7 linked regions of the Homo sapiens genome follow. The protein of the gene in region 4 interacts with the protein of the main gene of each other region in a pairwise test. Each region holds a gene or a part of one and is shown on either strand. Other genes may lie near its edges.

What was found.
Region 1: the proteins of ERGIC3 (region 4) and SLC35A1 interact in binary tests that used the Homo sapiens proteins (3 or more experiments, as listed by UniProt).
Region 2: the proteins of ERGIC3 (region 4) and SYNGR1 interact in binary tests that used the Homo sapiens proteins (3 or more experiments, as listed by UniProt).
Region 3: the proteins of ERGIC3 (region 4) and MS4A13 interact in binary tests that used the Homo sapiens proteins (3 or more experiments, as listed by UniProt).
Region 5: the proteins of ERGIC3 (region 4) and MFSD6 interact in binary tests that used the Homo sapiens proteins (3 or more experiments, as listed by UniProt).
Region 6: the proteins of ERGIC3 (region 4) and PEX16 interact in binary tests that used the Homo sapiens proteins (3 or more experiments, as listed by UniProt).
Region 7: the proteins of ERGIC3 (region 4) and BET1 interact in binary tests that used the Homo sapiens proteins (3 or more experiments, as listed by UniProt).

Annotation. Positions count from the first base shown.
Region 1 is NC_000006.12:87,479,474-87,482,973, reverse strand, and holds part of SLC35A1 (CMP-sialic acid transporter), read right to left. Parts: intron 1-3,500. UniProt on the Homo sapiens protein: Transports CMP-sialic acid from the cytosol into the Golgi apparatus, functioning as an antiporter that exchanges CMP-sialic acid for CMP. Binds both CMP-sialic acid and free CMP, but has higher affinity for free CMP.
Region 2 is NC_000022.11:39,383,533-39,386,075, reverse strand, and holds the end of SYNGR1 (synaptogyrin-1), read right to left. Parts: 3' UTR 501-2,543; downstream 1-500. UniProt on the Homo sapiens protein: May play a role in regulated exocytosis. Modulates the localization of synaptophysin/SYP into synaptic-like microvesicles and may therefore play a role in synaptic-like microvesicle formation and/or maturation.
Region 3 is NC_000011.10:60,518,392-60,521,891, reverse strand, and holds part of MS4A13 (membrane-spanning 4-domains subfamily A member 13), read right to left. Parts: intron 1-3,500. UniProt on the Homo sapiens protein: May be involved in signal transduction as a component of a multimeric receptor complex.
Region 4 is NC_000020.11:35,545,078-35,548,577, reverse strand, and holds part of ERGIC3 (endoplasmic reticulum-Golgi intermediate compartment protein 3), read right to left. Parts: intron 1,167-3,500; coding exon 1,073-1,166; intron 70-1,072; coding exon 1-69. UniProt on the Homo sapiens protein: Possible role in transport between endoplasmic reticulum and Golgi. Positively regulates trafficking of the secretory proteins SERPINA1/alpha1-antitrypsin and HP/haptoglobin.
Region 5 is NC_000002.12:190,432,355-190,435,854, reverse strand, and holds part of MFSD6 (major facilitator superfamily domain-containing protein 6), read right to left. Parts: intron 2,529-3,500; exon of another isoform or gene 2,463-2,528; intron 1-2,462.
Region 6 is NC_000011.10:45,909,163-45,912,020, forward strand, and holds the end of PEX16 (peroxisomal biogenesis factor 16), read right to left. Parts: intron 1,801-2,858; coding exon 1,736-1,800; intron 1,151-1,735; coding exon 1,092-1,150; 3' UTR 1,016-1,091; coding exon of another isoform or gene 927-1,015; 3' UTR 501-926; downstream 1-500. UniProt on the Homo sapiens protein: Required for peroxisome membrane biogenesis. May play a role in early stages of peroxisome assembly. Can recruit other peroxisomal proteins, such as PEX3 and PMP34, to de novo peroxisomes derived from the endoplasmic reticulum (ER).
Region 7 is NC_000007.14:93,997,856-94,001,355, forward strand, and holds part of BET1 (BET1 homolog), read right to left. Parts: intron 1,440-3,500; coding exon 1,315-1,439; intron 1-1,314. UniProt on the Homo sapiens protein: Required for vesicular transport from the ER to the Golgi complex. Functions as a SNARE involved in the docking process of ER-derived vesicles with the cis-Golgi membrane.

The sequences.
Region 1 (3,500 bases), on a different chromosome or scaffold from region 4:
ATCCTTAACCCAGTAACCCGCAGATGACCCAAATGCATTCAATCTGTACCGGCAACTGCTTTGCTAACAGAAGAAAGTAGAAAAATAACTTTTAGAGGAAACCTCATTGTGAGCACACCTCACCCAGTTCAGAAGTATCCTAAGACAAAAAGGTAACTTACTAACTCAAAAATCTTAAAGTATGGGGCTATTCTGTTAGAAAAAGATGATTTAACATTAACCACTGATAATTCCCTTAACCCAGCAGGTTTCCTCACAGGGGATCTAAATCTTAATTAATTACCATATAAAGGTCCGACCAGACCTAGAAGGAACTCCCTTCAGGACAGGACGATAGATGGTTCCTCCCGTGTGACTGAGGGAAAAAGCCACAACGGGTATTCAGTAAGTGATAGGGAAACTCTTATAGAAGTAGAGTTAGGAAAATTGCCTAATAGTTGGTAAGCTGTTTGCACTCAGCTAAGCCTTAAAGTACTTACAGAATCAGGAAGGAGTGGTCTATACCAATTCTAAGTTAATTTAAACTAAAGAAAGTCTTATTAATAGCAAAGGATAATTGAAATACCAAACTTACAAGGTTTTCCACAAAGGTAAAGTTTGCCAAAAGTTAGCAGTGTAATATGTATTATCCTAACTTCTAATCTTGTGGCCTTAGGCAGTCTAGTCCACAGACCTGAAGGAAGTTTGCTTTGGAAAAGAATGGTTATCATCTTGGGGGAAAAAAAAGGAGGGGGGGGAGAATTTATATAAAAAGAATGTTATATGGTAAATTATTATCCTAAAATAAATTAACTGGTTATTTAAAGAAAGCGATGTTTACAGGAAGTCAGAAAATTGAGGCCTGTCGAAGATTGCGAAAGTCATGAAAAATGCTATAAAAGGGAACTTATGCAAGAAATGTTGTATAATTTAAAAGTAATTAGGCCTCCTGAATGTAAAACTATTGAAGAAACAGTTTATGTGCAAGGTGTATAATGAAAGTAAAATATACTTTTGGTAAAAGGATAATAAGGAGGCATAGAATGTGGATTTTTACCTACATTAAAAGGTTAAAAAAAATTTTGTTTTGAGCGTTTAAGCAAGTTTTAAAATGTTAATTGTAAAGGAAATTCTGTGTGTAACCATATTGGCTAAAGTTAAAGGGGTATCATCCAGTTTTTCTGTGAACTGGACATTAAAATAAAAGCACAATGGGTTTTTCTTAAAACACTAAAAAACACTAAACTGCTCTTTAACAAATTTTATAAAAGGTTAAAAAGAGTCTATGGAAATCTTACCTTATGGTCAGACATTAAAATCGGATAAATATGTCTACAGGGTTTTATTAAAATTGAGTTTAATATTAATAATACACTAATATAAAGGTGAAATTTAGCTTATCTGGTATAATCATACAGGAAGCACTGTCAAATATAAAATGGTGTTTGGCTTTCTTTGGTCTAAAAACTAATAAAAATAGGTTTCTCAGGAAGTTTCTAAAGGAAGTTTCTCAGGAAGAAGGCACTAAGGACTATAAAGTCCACTGCTGGTGTCCCCCAATTTTTTTTTTTTTTTTTGAGTCAGAGTTTCGCTCTTGTTGCCCAGGCTAGAGTGCAATGGCGCGATCTCGGCTCACCACAACCTCCGCCTCCCAGGTTCAAGCGATTCTCCTGCCTCAGCCTCCCAAGTAGCTGGGATTACAGGCATGTGCCACCAAGCCTGGCTAATTTTGTATTTTTTAGTAGAGACAAGGTTTCTCCATGTTGGCCAGGCTGGTCTTGAAACTCCTGACCTCAGGTGATCCACCCGCCTCGGCCTCCCAAAGTGCTGGGATTACAGGCATGAGCCACCGCGCCCAGCCTGGTGTCCCCAAATTTAAAACAAAAGATCAGTTTCTCATAAATTATATACTTGGTTTATCTTCCACTTTCCTTTCCCTCAAAACTACAAGTCTTTTAGCACAGGTACCACCCCTAGAATTTCTGGTAAACGGGCACTAGCCTGGGGATCACACCCTCATCAAAGGGTAGAAAGAAGGAAAACTCAAGCCAGCCTGAGAAGGACCCTACCTTGTGCTGCTAACCACCAAGACTATGGTTTGTACCACAGAAGGGGGATGGACACATCACACCCGAGTCAAGCAAGCACCATTACCATCAGAATCATGGACCATTGTTCCTGGATCAAGCCTTACCAAATTAAAGCTAAGAAAAGCTTAGTCTATCTATCTTTTCCTTCCTTTCCTAACACAGTGCCTATATCCATTACTGTTCCTACCACTAGCAACTCTAACCCCACTTTAGAGCGTTTCTATGGTTTAGGAGCAGAAGTCACTGGAAAGGACCCTATAGGCTTCTTTAAGATGCGCTTTGTTCTCCCTGCTCTACCTCCTACAACTGCCCCTTTCACAAACCTACGAAATAAAACTATGCCTCGCCTCATGCCAAATGACAAAAGCAAGGTCTCAGTAGTAGAAATAGGAGACCTAAGGCAAACCATAGCTATTGACAGGGTATAAAGATGTAAATGCCTGGTTAAAATGTATTAAATATTCCATTCACACTTTAAACAAAAGTAACTGTTACACTTGTGTGCACGGTAGGCTAGAGGCCCAGGTTGTTACCTTTCCACTGGGATGGTCCTCAAATCAAGTGGACATGGAGTGCATGGTAGCTTTTTCAAGATTCTACTGCCTGGAATAACAAATTGTGCTAAGCTCTTTCTCTGCTATTTCCTGAAGTCCAACACCCTGCAGGTCAGCCCCCAAGGGCCATCCAGCCTCCATCTTCCAAAACCAATTTTACCTCGTGTCTCTAACGACACGGGGAAAAATTTGGCATTTCTTGGAGACTTAACAGGATGCAGTGAAGTTAGGCACTTCCAAGAGGTGACCCGTCAATCTGCCCTTATTCATCCCTGAGCGGATGTATGGTGGTATTATGGAGGACCTTTACTGGACACTCTGCCAAATAATTAGAGCAGTAGTTATGCTCTAGTTCAATTGGCTATCCCTTTTACTCTGGCATTTCATCAACCAGAGGAAGGAAAAATAAGACATCATAAAGTGAGAGAAGCTCCTTATAGGTCATTCAACTCTCATGTCTATTTAGATGCAATTGGAGTCCCACGGGGAATACCAGATCAATTTAAAGCCCGAAATCAAATAGCTGCAGGATTTGAGTCAATATTTTGGTGGGTCACAATTAATAAAAACATAGATTGGATAAACTACATCTATTATAACCAACAGCAATTTATGAACTACACTAGAGATGCTGTTAAAGGAATAGCTGAGCAATTAGGGACTAACTGCCAGATGGCTTGGGAAAATAGGATAGCCTTAGACATGATATTAGCAGAAAGAGGAGGAGTTTGCATCATGATTAAAACTGAATGTTGTGCCTTCATCCCAAACAACACTGCCCCTAATGGAAGTATAACAAAGGCATTGCAAGGTCTGACTGCTCTGTCCAATGAGTTAGCCAGCAGCTCAGGGGTAAATGACCCCTTTACAGGATGGC
Region 2 (2,543 bases), on a different chromosome or scaffold from region 4:
GCTTCAACTGTAATAATTTTCCTTTTTTTTTTTAGATGGATTTTTGCTCTTGATGCCAAGGCTGGAGTGCAATGGCACAATCTTGGCTCACTGCAACCTCTGCCTCCCCGGTTCAAGTGATTCTCCTGTCTCAGCCTCCCGAGTAGCTGGGATTACAGGCGTCTGCCACCACACCCGGCTAATTTTTTTTTTTTTTTGTATTTTTAGTAGAGACAGGTTTTCACCATGTCGGTCAGGCTGGTCTCGAACTCCTAACCTCAGGTGATCCACCCACCTTGGCCTCCCAAAGTGTTGGGATTACAGGCATGAGCCACTGCAGTCGGCCAATTTTACTTTTTAAAAAGATAATATATTCATAGGTTCATTGTGTAATGAAAAATTAACAAACAATAATAACCAAGTAAGACATGGCCTGTCTAAGGAGACAAACGGGATGGAGCATCCAAGCCAAACGCAGAATGAAGAACAAAGAAACACGGTGACACACTTGCAATCGCTGGTGGGTTCTGAGTCTTCACTTTATTACTATGTCACCAGAAGTCACCACCTTCACTTGGTTCACCACAGATGGATGGATGTCATAAAGGAGGGTGCCACGGGGCCACTGGATTCACTCGAGACTTAACCAGGTGGTGGGGGGGTCTAGAGTGGGGGCCCAGGATGGGGACCGCCCTTCACCGCACACACACGCACACACACACACAGATATATTTGTGGAGCCTTATATTATACATCTTATATATAGAAAATATATATATTTATACTATACACAGGCAGTAACGCTGCGGGAGGGGCCGGGGCACCGACAAGGGCTGTGCGCACCAGGACATGGGGAGTGTCAGGTCAAGTGCATCGCTGGGAGGCAGCCGGCCCAGTCCCTTCTCCCATAAACTCCTGGGAGGGGCATTCCCCCTTTCGTGCTCCTTAGAGAATCAAAGGGGTCTTGGGCCAAGGTTAGGGGTCTCCCAGGGCTAACAGGCAGGGTGTCTCAGTTACATGGGGAAACCTGGGATCCCCGAGGCTTTGAAGATCAAGAATCACCAGGGAAGGATGGAGTAGGGAACTAACGTCAGTCCCCTGGGAATTAGCCCCTCAACTGCGACACCCCCAGGTGGATAGGAGCCGTGCAGGCAGGACAGTCTGTGACTGCCCAGGATGAGCCAACTCAGAAGGCAGAAGACCTGACTCCTGAACCTCTCCCTCTGTGCTTGACCTTGGACAAGTCGCTGTCTCCCTACCCCAGACTCTGCCGACTCTAAGCGTCCTTGCGACTCTACACTTATGTGAAACCTTTTTTCCTGGGCCCTCTCTTGTGCTTGATGGGGAGGAGGGAGCCACCCTGCAGGGTCCAGCTGCAGGAGGGCCCTTCTCCAAGGAAAGCTTTGGGAGCAAGGGAGAAGTAGGGGAGGGCAGCTGGGAGGAAAAGGGATACCGGACAGAGTTGGGCCTGGGGTTCCCCAGGGGCTGTCCTCTGCCAACAGAAGGAGCGAGTTTCCCCATGAACCTTCCAGGGCAGAGTCAGGAGCCCTGGGTCCCATCCAAATCTCGCCCTCCATCTCTCACCCTCTCTCATCTCCATCCTGGGCAGGTCCCTGCCAGAGCCCAGCCTGATGGGGAAGATCATGCCTGGAAGGGCTTCTGGGCTGAACCCGGGAAGAGTGAGGGATTCTTCGTGAGATGACTCAGCACCCCCCATTCCTGGCAGGAGTCTTGACAGCTTTCCCTGCCTAGGGTGGCAGGCAGGGCCTGTCACAAACACCCAAGATGGAGTTAAGCTTACCTGGTACCCTGCCCTCCGGCTGAGGATCACCAGCAGCTGGCTGGCACCCGAGGAGAAACAGATGGGCAGTACCCTGAGGTCTCCTAGTGCCCATCAGCAGGAGAGGCTTTTGGTGGACAGTGGGTGAGGGTCAGAACATCTCACAGCCTCTTGTGGTGGGCACAGAACTTCACTCTGCCATAAACACTCCTGCCCTCACTCACGCCCTCACCTTTGGCCTGGTACAGGTTTCACTCTTCAGGCCAACAGATAACCTGCCCCCATGCTGGTCCCATGTGGGCCACCTGGCGGCGGGGGACTGTGGACAGAGCCCCTTCTCCGGATTGGAAAATGAAGTCAGCAACAACCAGCTGTCACACAGCTGGCTGGGGTCCTCTCCATCACTGCTGTCCTTTGGGAGGACTTGGACACACCTGAGTTTAGATCCGTGTTCCACTGCCAACTCGCCTATGCTTGCCGAGCCTCAGTTTCCCTTCTGTTAAATGGGGATAATGGTGCTACTTCTCTGCTTAGGACTTCCTCCTCTTTCCCTTAACTCTGGCCCAGCTTTGGGGCCATCGAAGCAGGGACCACCCATGCCCTTGGTATCTCCAGCACAGGGGCCGGGTAACTGCTGAGTGAGTAAGCAGGTGAGGGATCGCCTGCCTCTTAGGATTCTTAGATGGGGGATGGGGGGATGGTGGTGAAAACACCCAGCACTGGGCCCGTCCACCACCTGCTCTGCTCTGCTCCCTGAAGGACAGGCCAGTGGACACTGGGTGGA
Region 3 (3,500 bases), on a different chromosome or scaffold from region 4:
CAAACCTCTATCTTTTGTAAATTGCCCAGTCTCAGGTATGTCTTTATTAGCAGCATAAAAATGGACTATTACAATAAATTGGCACCAGGAGTGGGGTGCTGCTGAAAAGATACCCAAAAATTTGGAAGTGACTTTGGAACTGGGTAACAGGCAGATGTTAGGACAGTTTGGAGGACTTAGAAGAAGACAGGAAAATGTGGGAAAGTTTGGAACTCCCTAGAGACTTGTCAGATGGCTTTGACCAAAATGCCAATAATGATATGAAAAATGAAATCAAGGCTGAGGTGGTCTCAGATGGAAGATGAGGAATTTGTTGGGAATTAGAGCAAGGTGACTCTTGTTATGTTTTAGCAAAGAGACTGGTGGCATTTTTCCCTAGAGATTTGTGGAACTTTGAACTTGAGAGAGATGATTTAAGATATCTGGCAGAAGAAATGATCTAAGCAGCAAACCTTTCAAGAGGTGACTTGGATGCTGTTAAAGGCATTCAGTTTTATAAGGCAAGCACAGCATAAAAGTTCAAAAAAATTTACAGCCTGACAATGTGATAGAAAAGAAAAACCCATTTTCTGAGGAGAAATTTAAGCCAGCTGCAGAAATTTGCATAAGAAATGAGGAGCTGAATGTTAATTCTCAAGACAATGGGGAAAATGTCTCCAGGGCATGTCTGAGATCTTCATGGCAGCCCCTCCCATCACAGGCCCTGAAGCCTAGGAGGAAAAAGTGGTTTCATGGGCCGGGCCCAGGGCCCCTGTACTATGTGCAGCCTAGGGACTTGGTGCCCTGAATCCCAGCTGCTTCATCTGTGGCTGAAAGGGGCCAATGTAGAGCTTGGGCCATGGCCTCAGAGGGTGCGAGCCCCAAGCCTTGACAGTTTCCATGTGGTGTTGAGCCTGCGGGTACACAGAAGTCAAGAATTAAGGTTTTGGAACCTCTGCCTAGATTTCAGAGGATATATGGAACTGCCTGGATGCCCAGCGGAAGTTTGCTGCAGGGGCGGGGCCCTCATGGAGAACCTCTGCTAGGGCAGGGCAGAAGGGAAATGTGGGGTCGGAGCTGCCACACAGAGTCCCTACTGAGGCACTGCCTGGTGGAGCTGTGAGAAGAAGGCCACCATCCTCCAGACCCCAGAATGGTAGATCCTCTGACAGCTTGCACCGTGTGCCTGGAAAAGCTGCAGACAACGCCAGCCTGTGAAAACAGCCAGATCAGGGCTACACCATGTGAAGCCACAGGGGTAGAGCAGCCCAAGGCCATGGGAGCCCACCTCTTGCATCAGCATAACCTGGATGTGAGACATGGAGTCAAAGGAGATCATTTTTGAGCTTTAAGATTTGACTGCCCCACTGGATTTTAGACTTGCATGGGGCCTGTAGCCTTTGTTTCAACCAATTTCTCGCATTTGGAACAGCTGTATTTACTCAAGCCTGTACCCCCATTGTATCTAGGAAGTAACTAACTTGCTATTGATTTTACAGGCTCATAGGTGGAGAGGACCTTGCCTTGTCTCAGATGAGACTTTGGACTGTGGACTTTTGAGTTAATGCTGAAATGAGTTAAGACTTTGGGGGACAGTTGGGAAGGCATGATTGGTTTTGAAATGTGAAGACATGAAATTTAGGAGGGGCCAGGGGCAGAAAAACTCCCATTTCTTAAAACCATTAGATCTTGTGAGACTTATTCACTATCATGAGAACAGCATGGGAATGACTCGCCACCCCCCCAGCCTCATGATTCAGTTATCTTCCACCAGGTCCCTCCCACAATACTTGGGAATTATGGGAGCTATAAGATGAGATTTGGGTGGGGACACACAGCCAAACCATATCATCTTTCTATACCTTGGGCTTGTGGTTCTTGTTCTCTCCTCCAATCCCTGACTCCAAACTATCTTAGTCACTCACTCCCATAATCATTCTCTTGTCCTTGTTGTACCTTTCAAATCTTAATTTCAAGTATTCCACCTGATCATCACCTGCTATCTTTCTAGCTCATGCCCTCTAGTATTAAAATTCTAACAACCCTTTGACCCCACCTGGGTCTATAATCTGAGAACTTCAACTCTCTGTTAAATTCTTCTTTCCATCACTAACTTAAATTTCATGGCCAACCATTACAAACACTGCCCTATATCCACTTGCAATTGCTTTGCACCTTTCTTGTTTTATTATAGTTGCACAGCTAAACAAAGATCCTGATTGTTTTTATCCTACTGCATGGTTGCACTCATGCAGCTGAACATGGCCTGAGGAAGGCATACAACCCATATTCATATCCTGTTCCTAAACCTCAAGTATGTCCTTAATGCTGTGTGAAAATAAAACCACCTCTCCATAATCTGTGCACTCTCACTTTTCCTCGATGATTATTTCATATTCTCTTGCCTTTCCTCAAACAACCAAACCACTTCCCCATACTCAATCTCAGCTCATAATCTTGCTTCCTAATTCATTGAGCTATTTGAAGCTACTGGAAAAAAAAAAAAACTTCCACAGGCTTCCAACATCCTATCAAAGAAAACTCTCCTTTCTCTGCCTTTCCCTTCTGTTTTTGTACTTTGAAACCATTTATAATTAGACTGGATAATTCTTTGTTGTGAGGTGCTGTCCTGTGGATCACAGGCTATTTAGCAGCATCTTTTGCCCCTGCCCATCTGATGTACATCTCCAGCGGTGAAAATCCAAAATATCTCCAGATATTATAAAATGTTATCAGGGGCAAAATTGCCTCTAGCTGAGAACCATGCCCTAGATAAACTTTCTATGCTCCTAGCTATTTGTGCATCAAAATCCATCACCTCTTGCCTACACAAATACTTGATCCCAATACCCACCCCCATTTACTCATATCATCAATTTTCTTTCTTTTGGTTCAGTCCTCTCAACAAAGGATATGATGCTGTTTCTTTCAACTCACAGAAACTAATAAGCAAACCCTCTCTTGAGCCAAGTTTCCCCAGCTATCACCCCATTTCTTTATACCACATTACAGTAAAGTCCTTAAAGAAGCTCCTGTTTGCTGTCTGTAATTCCTCTCTTCCTATTTTTTTCTTAAATCAACTCCTACCAGGTTTTTGCTTCACAATTCCACTGAAACTACTTGTAAAATTTACTACTGACTTCCATATTGCTAAATCCAATGGTCAATTCGTAGTCCTCATTTTATTTGACAAAACAACAAAATATAATATAGTTGATCCTTCCTCATTTCTTCTAACAATTTCTTCACTTGGCTTCCAGGATATCATGCTCTCCAGGTTTTCCTCTACCTAATGGCTATCTAGAAACCACAGGAGAGTGTTAGTAATGAAAAATTTAGAAAATGAGTACTGACTCATTGGGTGAGGAGACTGAAGTGAAGATAATAAACATGCAAGTTAATCATGCTAATGGATATTATAGTTAAGATTCTTTGCCTTTCACATATCTAGGGACAAACTGCCCTATGGTTGTCATTGTGTACTCCTGTATCCATATCTCTTGAAACAGCACTTGTAAATT
Region 4 (3,500 bases):
TCTGGGTTCTTGAAGGCCCAGCCTCTACGGCGATATGCCTCCCGCACATCTTCACAGGTGTTACAGCACCTGTAGGGCAGGGAGTGACGGTGAGAGTGTTAAAGAGGCATAAGTCCAGTGCTGGCATCTGGGGAAATAGAGCCCGAGCAGCTCTGCCTGCTAATGAAGGCTCTGCTAGCCTCATCCCTGACCACCAAACATTCTCCAAATGTGTTTCCTCAGTGGCAGAAGGACTGTTTTCTTTTTTTAATTTTTAAAATTTTTTTAGAGATAGGGTCTTGCTATGTTGCCCAGGCTGGTCTCAAACTCCTGAGCTCAAGTGATTCACCTACCTCGGCCTCCCAAAGTGCTACGGATTACAGGTGTAAGCCATTGTGCCCAGACTAGGACTGTGAAAAATACATATTCCCATTCTGTTTGAGGCGATGACAAGTTTTAGGACAGAGAGTGGTGACTGCATGACACTGTGAAGATACCTAATGCCACTGAGTTGCACACTTAAAAATAGTTAAAATGGTAAATTTTATGTCACATATTTTCCCACAATAAAAAAAAATTTAAGTACACATTCCCAGGCCCCACTCCAGACCTGCTGAATCAGTCTTGCAGAAGTCAGGGTCTGGGAAACAGCAGCAGTTATCAGATACTGAGGGTCTAATAATCTGGGCTGGGCCTTCCACCTCAGTGCTTTACACACAGTATACAGCTAATCCATATGTGACTCTTACGAGAAGATGTTATTATCATCCCTCTTCACATAGAGAGGTTACATGGCTTGGCCCAAGGAAACGGGTAGAACCCAGGTAACTGGACTCCAGAGACCACCTCTGAACCATTTCTCTAGGTGGAAGAGCAGAGACCACTTCAGCTTCATCTCTAGGTCTGCAGCTCCCAGATAGGGCCTGGTTACAAAGCCTCAGTCGCTTGCACCAGGATCAATGACAGAGGCACATACCCCGCCCACTCTAGATTCTTGGTCTGACCTCCCCACCTGCCACAGTCTGACTGAGGCTGAGGCTGACTGACAGATGGCGCCTGATGGGAACCCTGCTCCCGCTCCCCGCCAGCTCACTTGATATCTTCTGCCTCAGCACCATAGCAGCTCTCACAGCGATCAGGGTCCAGGGAGTCAGGGTCAAACACCGTCACCTCGACTTTCCCAAGCTCTAAGGGGAGGGGAGAAGCAGAGGCATCAGCTGGGGCCAGACACAGTGAAATCGGTGGCTCCAGTCTGCACAAGCCCTTTGCTTAGGGATAATAAAAGTTATAATAACTAATATTCATATAGTACATGCTACGGGTCAGGCATTAAGCACTTCTACACACATATCAATTCTTTTAATAAAAGAAACAGTAAGAAAACAGTCAACAGTAAATACTGAACATTAGCTGTGTACAGATCACTGTACTTCACAACCATCATCTCATTTCATCCCCACAATGACTCTTTGAGGGTGGCGGTAATTATCCCTGTTTTACTGAGAAGATGTTGAGGCTCACTGATGAGAAGTGACTTTGCCCAATGCAACCGAGGAAACAGATTTCAGCTAATTCCAACGTGTATGCCACTAACCTCTTGCCATGGTGCTTCTCCTCACACCTCTCCCTCTGCACCGGCTCCTTGCCTCACTCTAATCACCCCATCATAACTGGTGATTTCAATAATGAATACTGACCTCCCGACTCATGATAATCTTTTGATTTTGCCATCTCACCTCAGCTACCCATTTTCATACTCATACCTAGATCCTGTCACTGCCAATAACTGCAAATCTTCCAAAATTCAACTTCAAGTGTCTGAGTCTTCAACTACTTACCCTTATTTTCCAAGTTCACTATTTAGTACCCGAAATCCACCAATTCTTTGACACTGCTGACACTATCACGTCCTCACTTCCCTCCTGAAATCCCATGGTCCACTGTAATTATTCTCTTGCACATAACCACAACTCCCTGTTCCTCTCGTCTTTCATTTACAAATCCAGCAAAACCCACACCCTGGTTCCATTCAACTCTCTGTACCTACTTCTTTCCTGAAGCTCCTTTAGGACTGCCTGGCAATTCCACTTCATTTCTCTAATCAGTTCACTCTCCCACTCTCTAAGGTGACTTAGACCTTCTCCTCTCTCCTTAGGCTCCCAAAACCCCCTCCTATTTCTTCACTTAGCTAATGTCCTTGCTTTCAATTTCCACTAAGAAAAGAGAAGCAACAGAACTTCACTTGCTCTCACCACCAAACCCACCATCTCACCACTTTCTCCTTCAGATCCCACTCCATTTCTCAGCTCTCCCTTACAGTGAAACTCCCAAGTCACCTATAGGTAATGTCTCCACTTCCTTTTTTGCTCTTTGATCCGATTTTCATCCTCAACAGTATCAAAATTGTTCCTTTCAAAGTCTCCAGGAATCTCTTTGTTGCTAATTTCAATGGTCAATTCTCACTCCTCATTTTACTGGACTATCAGTAGCTTCTGATACAACTGCTCACTCTCTCTTCTTGAAACTCTCTCCACTTGGCTTTTGGGACACCTCTTGGTTCTTCTACGTCAATGGCTAATCCGTCCCAATCTTCCTTCCTGTCCTGACTTTTAAATATTGGAGATACCCAGGGTACAGGCCGTAGACCTATCCTCTACCTACATTGACTCCCCAGGTTTTCTTAGTCCAGTTGTTTAAACTACCCTGTACCTGCTGATAACTCCTCTAAATTCTAGACTGGTACATCTAATTGCCTCTTAATATCACCAGAGTATAAAATAGGAACCCCAAATTTAACATACCCCAAACCTGAGATTCCTCTTTCCTGCAAATCCTGACCTTACTCTGTGGAAGCTAGTTTCCAAGATGTCCTCAATGATCCCCACTTCCTAGTATTCACACCCTTATGTAGTCCTCTCCCACAATGAGTAAGGCTGACCTGTGTAAGCACTAGTATATTGCAGAAATGATGGTGTACAACTTCTGAGGCTGGGTCATAAAAAAGGTTACACGTTTTTTTGTTGTTGTTGTTGAGACAGAGTTTCACTCTTGTTGCCTAAGCTGGAGTGCAGTGGCGTGATCTCGGCTCACTGCAACCTCTGCCTCTCTGGTTCAAGTGATTCTCCTGCCTCAGCCTCCTGAGTAGCTAGGATTACAGGTGCCCACCACCACACCCGGCTAATTTTTTTTTTTTTGTATTTTTTAGTAGAGATGGGGTTTTACCATGTTGGCCAGGCTGGTCTTGAACTCCTGACTTCAGGTGATCCAACTGCCTCAGCCTCCAAAAGTGCTGGGACTACAGGCGTGAGCCACCATGCCTGGCCAAAGGTTATGGTTTCTACTTTGTTCTCTCAGCTCACTTGCAAGATCCAAGTGGGGGAAGCCAGTTGCCGTGATACAAGGACACACAAGCAACCCTACTGAGAGGCCCATGTGGTGAGGCACTGAGGCATCCTGCCAACAGCCCTATGAGTGAGCCCTTTAAAAGCAGATCCCCTGCTGGGCGTGGTGGCCCATGCCTG
Region 5 (3,500 bases), on a different chromosome or scaffold from region 4:
ATCATTTATCACTTGCAGCCACACAATACCGGTAAGGAAAAATAGCTTTTAAAAAAATCGAATACTCTTTATGGCCACTGACTGACTAATTACATCTTCCAATGGCAGGTTTACAGCTCAGATTCATTCCCAGTCTTTTCATTGATTCCCAGGGAAAATGTACAAATAATAGGGATTATGTCTAAACCAAACACAGAGAGTTGAAAATAAACACTGTTTATAGTTTCTTGATTTTACTGTTCAAACAAATCCACTACATTATGAAGTCTAGGATTCTTTAGAAAATAAAGGTAGCAAAACCATTCTGTTTCTAAGGAAAAATAGGTTGCACTTAACCACAACCACAAATGTAATGAGAAAGAGGAAGCCGATGGCATTGTTGCAACTATAGTGCTCACTGGAGCCATGACAAAGATACCCTGGTAATGAAGGAGTCTTCACATTGCATATATTATGTACAGTCCTCCAGATGTGCTTTATAGATAGCAGTTTAAGAAAATGGCAAGAAAAAAGAGCAGATAATACTTATTTAGCACTCTGTATCAGATAAGATTAAAAGATCTTTACATGTATTCATTCATATTCATCACAATAGCCCTATTATCTTGTCCATTTTACAGATGAGAAGAATGAGGCATGGCAGGTTTAACTAATAAGAGGCAGTGCCAGGATTTGAACCCTGACATTATGGCTTCAGGACACATGCTCTCTACGATGGTAGTCCCCAACCATTTTGGCACCAGGGACTGGTTTCATGGAAGATAATTTTTCCTCAGATGGAGAGGGGGGTTGGTTTTGGGATGAACTGCTCCACTTCAGATCATCAGGGTAATTCTTAGGTTCTCATAAGGAGCACACAACCTACATCCCTCGCATGCACAGTTCACAATAGCGTTCATGCTCCTATGCAAATCTAATACCTCTGCTGATCTGACAGGAGGAAGAGCTCATGTGATAATGCTTGCTGGCCCGCTCTTGCTGTGCAGCCCAATTCCTAACAGGCCACAGAGTGGTAGCGGTCCATGGTCCAGGGGTTGGGGAACCCTGCTCTAAGACACACTAAACTGAAAAATAACACATTTTAGATAAGATGCCAGTAAACTTTTTTGAAAAACAGTGTTTTGGCCGGGCGCGGTGGCTCACACCTGTAATCCCAGCACTTTGGGAGGCTGAGGGGGGCGGATCATGAGTTCAGGAGATTGAGACCATCCTGGCCAACATGGTGAAACCCCGTTTCTACTAAAAGTACAAGAATTAGCTGGGCCTGGTGGCACGCATGTAGTCCCAGCTACTTGGGAAGCTGAGGCAGGCAAATTGCTCGAACCCAGGAGGCGGAGGTTGCAGTGAGCTGAGATTGCGCCACTGCACTCCAGCCTGGCAACAGAGCGAGACTCCGTCTCAAAAAAATAAATAAATAAAATAAAATAAATAAATGTTTTTCATATACGATATTAGCAATATACATTTATATAAATTTATAGGAACTGTGCCAGCATCCCATCAGAATTTCCCTTTCTTCTATTAAAGATTGAATGATTAAAGTGTCAAAAGGTCTTGTGTGCATCAAGAATTATGTTGTTCCAATGAACAGATTCTGATGGTAGGAAGTATATACATTAAATATGTGTTAATTCCTTTCACCTTCTTTTCTTTTTTTTCTTTTTTTTTTTTTGAGAGACAGGGTCTTACTCTGTCACCCAGGCTGGAGTGCAGTGGTGTAATTATGGCACTGCAGCCTCAACCTCCCAGTCTCAAGCAATCCTTCCACCTCAGTCTCCTAAGTAGCTAGGACTACAGACGTGTGCCACCATGCCCAACTAATTTTTGTAGAGATGGGGTTTTTGCCATGTTGCCCAGGCCGTTCTCCAACTCCTGGGCTCAAGTGATCCTCTTGCCTCAGCCTCCCAAAGTGCTGGGATTACAGGCGTGAACCACTGCACCCTGCCTCCTTTCACTTTCTTTACTAGAGAAAAATATCAGTTTCACTTGCTACCCCTTGGAATAGATCTTGCTCTTTGTTTTCCCAAAATGAATAACATTCTGAAAAACCTTCTAAAATTATACTTGTAAGCATTTTTTAATCTCTACAAAGCTCCTAGGTAGACAATGGAACACAACTTAAGGAGACCTGTGTAAGGAGTCAATTTATCTGTTATCCCCAAAAGCCAGATGTCAATGTAGCTGTAAGCTTTGAAAATGTTCATGTCGGTTTTTTAGGTTAAAAAAAATTTAACTGAAGTGAAATTCACATAACACAAAATTAACCATTTTGAAAGTGAACAATTCAGCGGTAATTTACTATATTCACAATGTATATGGCCACCACCTCTATTTAGTTTCCAAATCAGGTTTTTCTTAATAGTGAAAGAAAAACATTTTTTTCCTCCTAGAAAATGTGAAGGTTAAGCAAAATCCAATCTTTTGCTGCTTAGCTATACATGACTTTCTTTAATGTTCTATACCTATTTTTCCTTCATCATTAGTGCCTTCACCTATCCAGCTCAGCGGCTCCAATTCCATTTCATCATCTGAAAAGAAAAAATAATTTGCCCTCAAATCTATTTTCTAAATTAATTTAATTCCTGAGCTCAAAATTCAAAGAAACATTTCTTGTGTTTCAAATGTATAAAATTATGTGATACTTCTGGGTAAAGAGAGCAGATTAAACACATGTAGTTTGAATCCTTCCCTGAACCCACTAAAATGACAATAAACACACACACACCCAAACATACACACACACTGTAAAAGTCATAATTCAAGCTAGAAAGATTAAAGGGCACATAATAGCAATAAAATAAAATTACGGAAAGCAGAAAGTAAACAATTGGTAAAAGACTTGGTAGATCTGAGAAAACTAAAACCTTGGTTGATTATAGGGAAAGCCAAGAACTAATAAAATTTACTACTCGGAATCCCTGAAAGGCTCATGAGTTAGCTATATTAGATTTATATGCAAGTAAGAGAAAGAGTGTATGTGTGAGTAAGTGAGTGAAAGAGAGAGAGAGAGAGAGTGTGTGTGTGTTGGGGGGCGGGGGTGGCAGGGGTTGGGGAGGTGCTCAAATAGAGCTGACTGAAAGTCTAAACCCCAAACAAATGCAGGTTATTTTCCTCTGGAAAGTAAAACACAGAGATTTTGGCCAGGTGCGGTGGCTCACGCCTGTAATTCAAGCACTTTAGGAGGTTGAGGTGGGTGGATCATTTGAGGTCAGGAGTTCAAGAGCAGCCTGGCCAACTTGGCAAAACCCTGTCTCTACTAAAAATACAAAAATTAGCCAGGCATGGTGGCAGGTGCCTGTAATCTCAGCTACTTTAGAGGCTGAGGCAAGAGAATCACTTGAACCCAGGAGCCGGAGGTTGCAGAGAGCCGAGATCACGCCACTGCATTCTCCAGCCTGGGTGACGGAGCAAGACTCTGTCTCAAAAAACAAAAACAAACAAGAAACACAGAGGTTTTCTGGCCATAGAGCACCAAGCAGAGTTGTAAACGGTGCCATGCT
Region 6 (2,858 bases), on a different chromosome or scaffold from region 4:
GAGAGGCGGAGGGCAGGGGACTGTGCTTCACTGCTGGTTTCTGATGGCCAGGCATGTGCCCAGAAACGCCTGTTCCACTAAGCTGGAGGCCATGGGAGCCCAGGCAGCCCCTTCCCCTGCCTGTGGGTGAGGACCTGGGGGGCGCTCCTCAGAGGGCCCTGGGGAAAGCAGTGTGTCTTGGAGGAGCTGAGGCATGGAGGACCAAGGTGTAGATGGAGCCCTCTCTGTGGGTTTGAAACTCTAGCATGAGAGGCTGGCTCTTCACAGGGCCAGTGGCTGAGGACAGGCTAAGTTCAGGGAGAAGACGACCAGCCTGCGGCCCACCCTGTCCAGGCCCTCCCCCATAGCAGCTTGCATGGCTCCAGGTGGACCCGGCCTCTGGAGCCTGCAGGGCAAGCATGGGGAAACCCCAGCTCATACCCCCTGAACTGGCCCCGGCTTCCTCCCCGAGCCTGTCCAGCTCCCACTCCCTCCCCAGTGCTGGCCAGTGCCCGATGTCCTTTTTCTAAGGGAGAAAAGCCTTTTACTCTCAACCGAGGATGCAGGGCTTAAAGTGCCACTTGCGTGGGAGCCAGGCTCACTGTTCACCAGGCTCTGTCACAGGGAGGCTGGCAACGCCATGGCCTGGGGCTGCCAGAGCCACAGGGCCCTGCGGAGAAGGGGCAGACGGAGGGCCCCAGCCAGAAGACACGCTGGGCAGCGTTCAGCCATCACCCGGGTTCAGGCTTCCTGTCCTCACCAGGGGCCAGCGAGAGAGCAGCAGTGTTCGCTCCTATGGCTGCCGAGGCGAGCAGCTTCCCGGGCTCCATGAGGTGAAGTCACCGCTTTCTGTGGGAGAGGAGCCTGGATCCCACTCCTAGTGAAGGCTTCTTGGCCCAGCAGTGACAAGGTGCGGGCTGCAGTGGCATCGTCACAGGAGAGCGCAGTCAAGGGTGTCCTGGGAGGAACGCTGGTGGCGACCAGGGCTGTGTGTGGGGCCTGGCCGGTAGGCACGGAGAGGCCGCACGCTGGGACGCTGCCGGAGTCAGTTTTATTAGGGAAGAGGGGCTCCCTGCCCCACCCCTCCCCACACCCTCCTTCCGGGAGGTCTGTCAGCCCCAACTGTAGAAGTAGATTTTCTGCCAGGTGGGCAAGTAATCCATGAGCGGCCCTGCAGTGGGAGAGGGACACATCAGGGCAGGCCAGACCCCAATCTGCACTGTGGCGCCACATACAGCACCTCACCCCTGCGGCCCAGGAGCCAGCCCAGCTGGCTGTCTTGCCCTGCCCCCAGGAGGCAGCACTGCAGGGGACTCTGGCACCATTTACAAAGACCCTCAGGCCCAGAGAAGCTCAGCCAGGGTAGACACTGAGGGGCCTGAGTCAGGTCCAGTCACCCAACCCAAGCCCAGTGGGCCTCTGCTGAGGGAGGATCTCAGCAGCCCGGTGGACCCCTTCTCTGCCATTGAATCCCCCCAAGATGAGATGGTCCCGTATCGCTCCAGGATACTGTGACCAGAAAAAAGCTGGCAGCTGATGTGGTCCCCCCACCAGTGGACACCCTCCTTCCAGCCATCCCTGGCTCCTCAGGCCACCCTGGCCTATGCCCAGGGGCAGTCCCACCCAATCCTGACTTCCCGACTTCCTCTCCTGACTGTGCCAAGAATCAAATTGCAAGGAGACAGAGGAGTCAGGGAGGTGCTTGCATGCATGCGCCTTCCAGCACTACAGTCATCGCGTCCCCATCCCTGCTTACTTGTGACCAGGCCAACGCCAGGGACGTGGTCGGCCAGCAACTGGAGCAGGAAGAGGATCCTGGCCCTGGGGGAGGCAATAAATGGGGAGCAAGCTGAGTGGGGTGGGGGTGGGTCCCTGCAAACCAGGAGGCCCAGAGGCCTTCACTGACCACCGTGCCGAATGCAGCGCATTCCAGAAAACAAAGGTGACTTTCTTGGGAGCTAGGACAAAGCCCGGTACACAAGGGCAAGACCTCTGGGGTTGGCTCTGGCCTCCACCCTCCACCAGCTCAGCTTCGGGGTGGCCGCTGACCCACAACACCTCCTCCCATTCCTCTTTCCCCTTCCACCGACATCCAACACTGAAGGCCTCTAGAGGGTCGCATGTGGAGCAGCGCCCTGGCAGTATGGTGGAGGGTCCAGGGAGGACAACCCCACCCTGCCCTCGGGAAGCCCCCCAGTCTGGCAGAAGTGCTGGGCTGCATGGAAACCTCACAAGCCACCAATGAGAGTAGTCAGGACCTTGGTAGGGGACACAGTACTGAAGAGGGCACATTTTGGTTCAGGGGAAGGGGCAAGGCCCAAGGCCCTGATTTTTAAGACAGGAGGGTTTTCCACAGGGGAACTCGGGTGAGATGAGGATGCTGATGACAATACATAGCGCTACGTGCTTACTACACCCCACGCACTGCTGTACGCGTTAGTCACTGAACCCCTACAAAGTGGGTACTGTCATCATCCCCATCTTACAGGTGAGGAAATGAGGCACAGGCGCATCAAATAACTTGCCCAAGGCTACACATCTGGAAGGCGGCCTGACTCCTTATATGTCTGTCTGAGCAGCAAGAAAAGAGGAAGCCTGGGGGCCGGGTGTGGTGGCTCATGCCTATAATCCCAGCGCTTTGGGAGGCCAAGGCGGGCAGATCAATTGTGGTCAGGAGTTCGAGACGAGCCTGACCAACATGGAGAAACCCCATCTCTACTAAAAAATACAAAATTAGCCGGGCGTGGTGGCGCGCACCTGTAATCCCAGCTACTTGGGAAGCTGAGGCAGGAGAATTGCTTGAACCCGGGAGGCAGAGGTTGCGGTGAGCCGAGATCACGCCATTGCACTCCAGCCTGGGCAACGTGAGTGAAACTCCG
Region 7 (3,500 bases), on a different chromosome or scaffold from region 4:
AAATTCCTTTTACATACAAATAATGCCAATGCAAATCACTATGAATAAGTGCTACAGAAATGGCACAAATGGTCTTATGTTCATAAGAAGAAAAGTTACTTTTGGATGTGGTAATCAGGTAAAAGTTTGGAGGGAGGGGGTGCAATGAAGTGGGGCGGATGTGGATAAGCAGCACTTCAGTTGATCTAAGAAGGAAGTGGAGGCTTAAGGCAAAGGGATAGTGTGATATGGGGGTGGGAAAGTGACAGCATACAGAGGACACAAAGTGTAATTTGTCTAGCAGGAAGCACATACAGATTCTGGAAGTGTGAGAGATAAGATCTCAAAAGCTAAGGCCAATTTTTGAAAGATCTATCTGATTTAATCAAGCTACGAAGCATGAACTTTATTAAATCATGGAAGGACGCTGAAGACTTCTGGGAGTGCAGGATGCAAGTTTTAAAATATTCTAAACGAGGACTGTGGCAATGATTATATAGCTCAGATCATAATGTGCAAAAAAACAGGAACAGATAGGTTAAGATGTTCTTCCAATAGTTCAACTAAGAAAACCAGGGGATAGGCCAGGTGCGGTGGCTCACACCTATAATCCCAGCACTTTGGGAGGCCAAGGCGGGCGGATCACCTGAGATAAAGAGTTCAAGACCAGCCTGGCCAACATGGTAAAACCCTGTCTCTGCTAAAAATACAAAAATTAGCCGGGTGTGGTGGCGGGCACCTGCAATCGCAGCTATTTGGGAGGCTGAGACAGGGGGATTGCTTTAACCTAGGAGGCAGAGGTTGCAGTGAGCCAAAACTGCACCATTGCACTCCAGCCTGGGCAACAAGAGCAAAACTCCATCTCAAAAAAAAAGAAAAGAAAAGAAAACCAGGGGATAGTATTAGAAATAGAAAGGCAAAGATAGAAACATCAGAAAGACAGTGTAAGACTCAGTGACTGAAATGAAGTACAAAGGTAGAAATAAGAAAGACCAAGATTTATAGCTTAGAAGGCTAGATTAAAAAAAGCAGAAGAGCTACTTGGGGGTGGAAGATGGACAGCTCTGTTTGAGACATTACAGCAGACAGCATACAGTATACAAAAAAGAGCTGGAGATTTTTCTTAAGTATTAAAAAAAATCTATCTTTTGATGTGCCACATTTTTTAACTTACTCAAAGCACAGTCTAAATTTTGAGTGTACTTTGACCTCACAAAACCACAGTATCTGAGTAAATGAATTCCTTAGGATGACGTCAATAAGAATATATAGTTTATAATTATATGTATAGAAATATATGAATTAAAACACATATAATATTTGTTATATACTTACAGATTTTATAGCAGTTACTTTGCTTCTCAGACTTTCAGTGAGCCTCTCATTTTCTTCTTCACAGGCACTATACCCACTATTAGCATAGCCATAGTTCCCATAGTTGCCAGGAGGTACTCCTTCACCTGCAAGGATCAGAGTCACAAAGGTGGTTCTAGAGAAGCCACTTTTGAAACACTGTTAGTTAGGAAAGAACTGAAAAAGACCCCTGGAGGGCCTTGCAAACCACATATGTCTCTAATATTCATACTCCAAATGAATTTAAAAAATAAATAACCAAACAGAGATCAGACCAATTCTTTCCATTACTCTCTGTTAACCAAAGAATATTCAGTTCAGTTCATTTTGATACACATTTCTGGATTGCTTATTGATTGTCCAGAAGATACAAAAATAGGTACTAATACACAAGAATATTCAGGATACATTCCCTGCTCAAGAGAAACATATATTTTAATGAAAGTTCTAAAAGCAGTAACATCATCTACCCATTGAAAAAGCGTGGCTGTGAAGAGGAAGGGAAAAGTGGTTAATACAGAAGGACGGGAGCTCATAGCGGCGAGGGTTCTTTACTGGCATCTCTTTCTCTTAAATAGACAGTTGGACAGGAAAGAGCCAAAGCAGGGAGGGGGCAAACTGAAGCTCTAGGAAAGAGACACAATAACTTATGCAGAATGCTAGCTGAGAGTCAAGAGGGAGATTCATTTATTCTTCAACATATATTTGAAGAATTACCATGTATCAGATCCACTGTTCTTTCTAGGTGCTACTTTTATGGAACTCTAAGGGATAAGAATGTACACCTCCCTGCCTAATATAGTACTTCATAGTCATCAGGCTATCAAACAACAGATGGAGTGGGCCTTAGTGAATACATATATAAATATGTTGGGCGATTAACAGGAAACGGCATAGTTCAGGGTGTTAGTTAACTATACTTTTTTTTTTTTTTTGAGGTGGAGTCTCGCTCTGTCGCCCAAGCTGGAGTGCAGTGGCGCGATCTCGGCTCACTGCAAGCTCCGCCTCCCAGGTTCAGGCCATTCTCCTGCCTCAGCCTCCCGAGCAGCTGGGACTACAGGTGCCCGCCATCACACCTGGCTAATTTTTTTTTTTTTTGTATTTTTTAGCAGAGACAGGGTTTCACCCTGTTAGCCAGGATGGTCTCGATCTCCTGACCTCATGATCCATCCGCCTCGGCCCCCCAAAGTGCTGGGATTACAGGCGTGAACTTTTTTTTAACATAATTGTTGCCATCAATTTTCTCAGTAAAGGGAGAAAACGGGCTATCTGCTGAAGAATGGGTGATCATTCAGAATATACAGTAAGGAGAATGATGGAGGAAAGGGACCGGGACTGCACAGGATTACTAAAGATAAAACAAACTTGTTTGAGGCAATATACTACGGTGGCTTCAATCGTCCCAGGTGTGTGGTTTTTTTCTGCAGAAGAGTTCATCGGCCTGAGTTAGTCCAGGAGAAGGTGGATGGTTGGACTAATCTATAGTTGGAAGCTTATAATATTGAGGTTGCAGAAAAACGGAGCCCCAAGAGGTTGAGACTGCTTGCCAAAAGAGCGGTTGAAGATCTGGATTATGGGGATTAGATTGGACAGATATTAAAGCAGATTCAACAGTGACTTGAGAATGTGGGGAAAGGAATGATATCAAAACTAGAAGTCTCAGAGCCTGCTGCACACAGTTGCTTGCACCTATAATCCCAGCTACTTGGGAAGCTGAGGGAGGCAGGATCACTTGAGGCCAGGAATTTGAGACCAGCCTGGGCAACACAGCAAGACCTCATCTATTAAAAACAAACAAAACTAGAAGTCTCCATATGCTCAATGAGCAGATGCAGCAGCAGTGACAGGAGGTAACAGCACTGATCACTGAAGGACAGTCAAGGTGTGAATAGGAACTTCTTTCAAGGCACAATAGAAATTTCATTTTCCCTATGAAGCAAAACTCTCACTGATTTCTTACAGCTCTGATTGTATGTAACACTAATATTGCACTCTGTACAGTACTATAAGGGAAGAGAATAAGTTTGTTTGACTCAACACTGTATGTCCCCCCATAAACCTACAAACACATACACACTGTAAGGCACACTCAATGAATACATGATGTGAACTAATTAATGAAAAGAATCTGAGTTCACTGTTATTGAACTTTGAATGTGCATACCTTT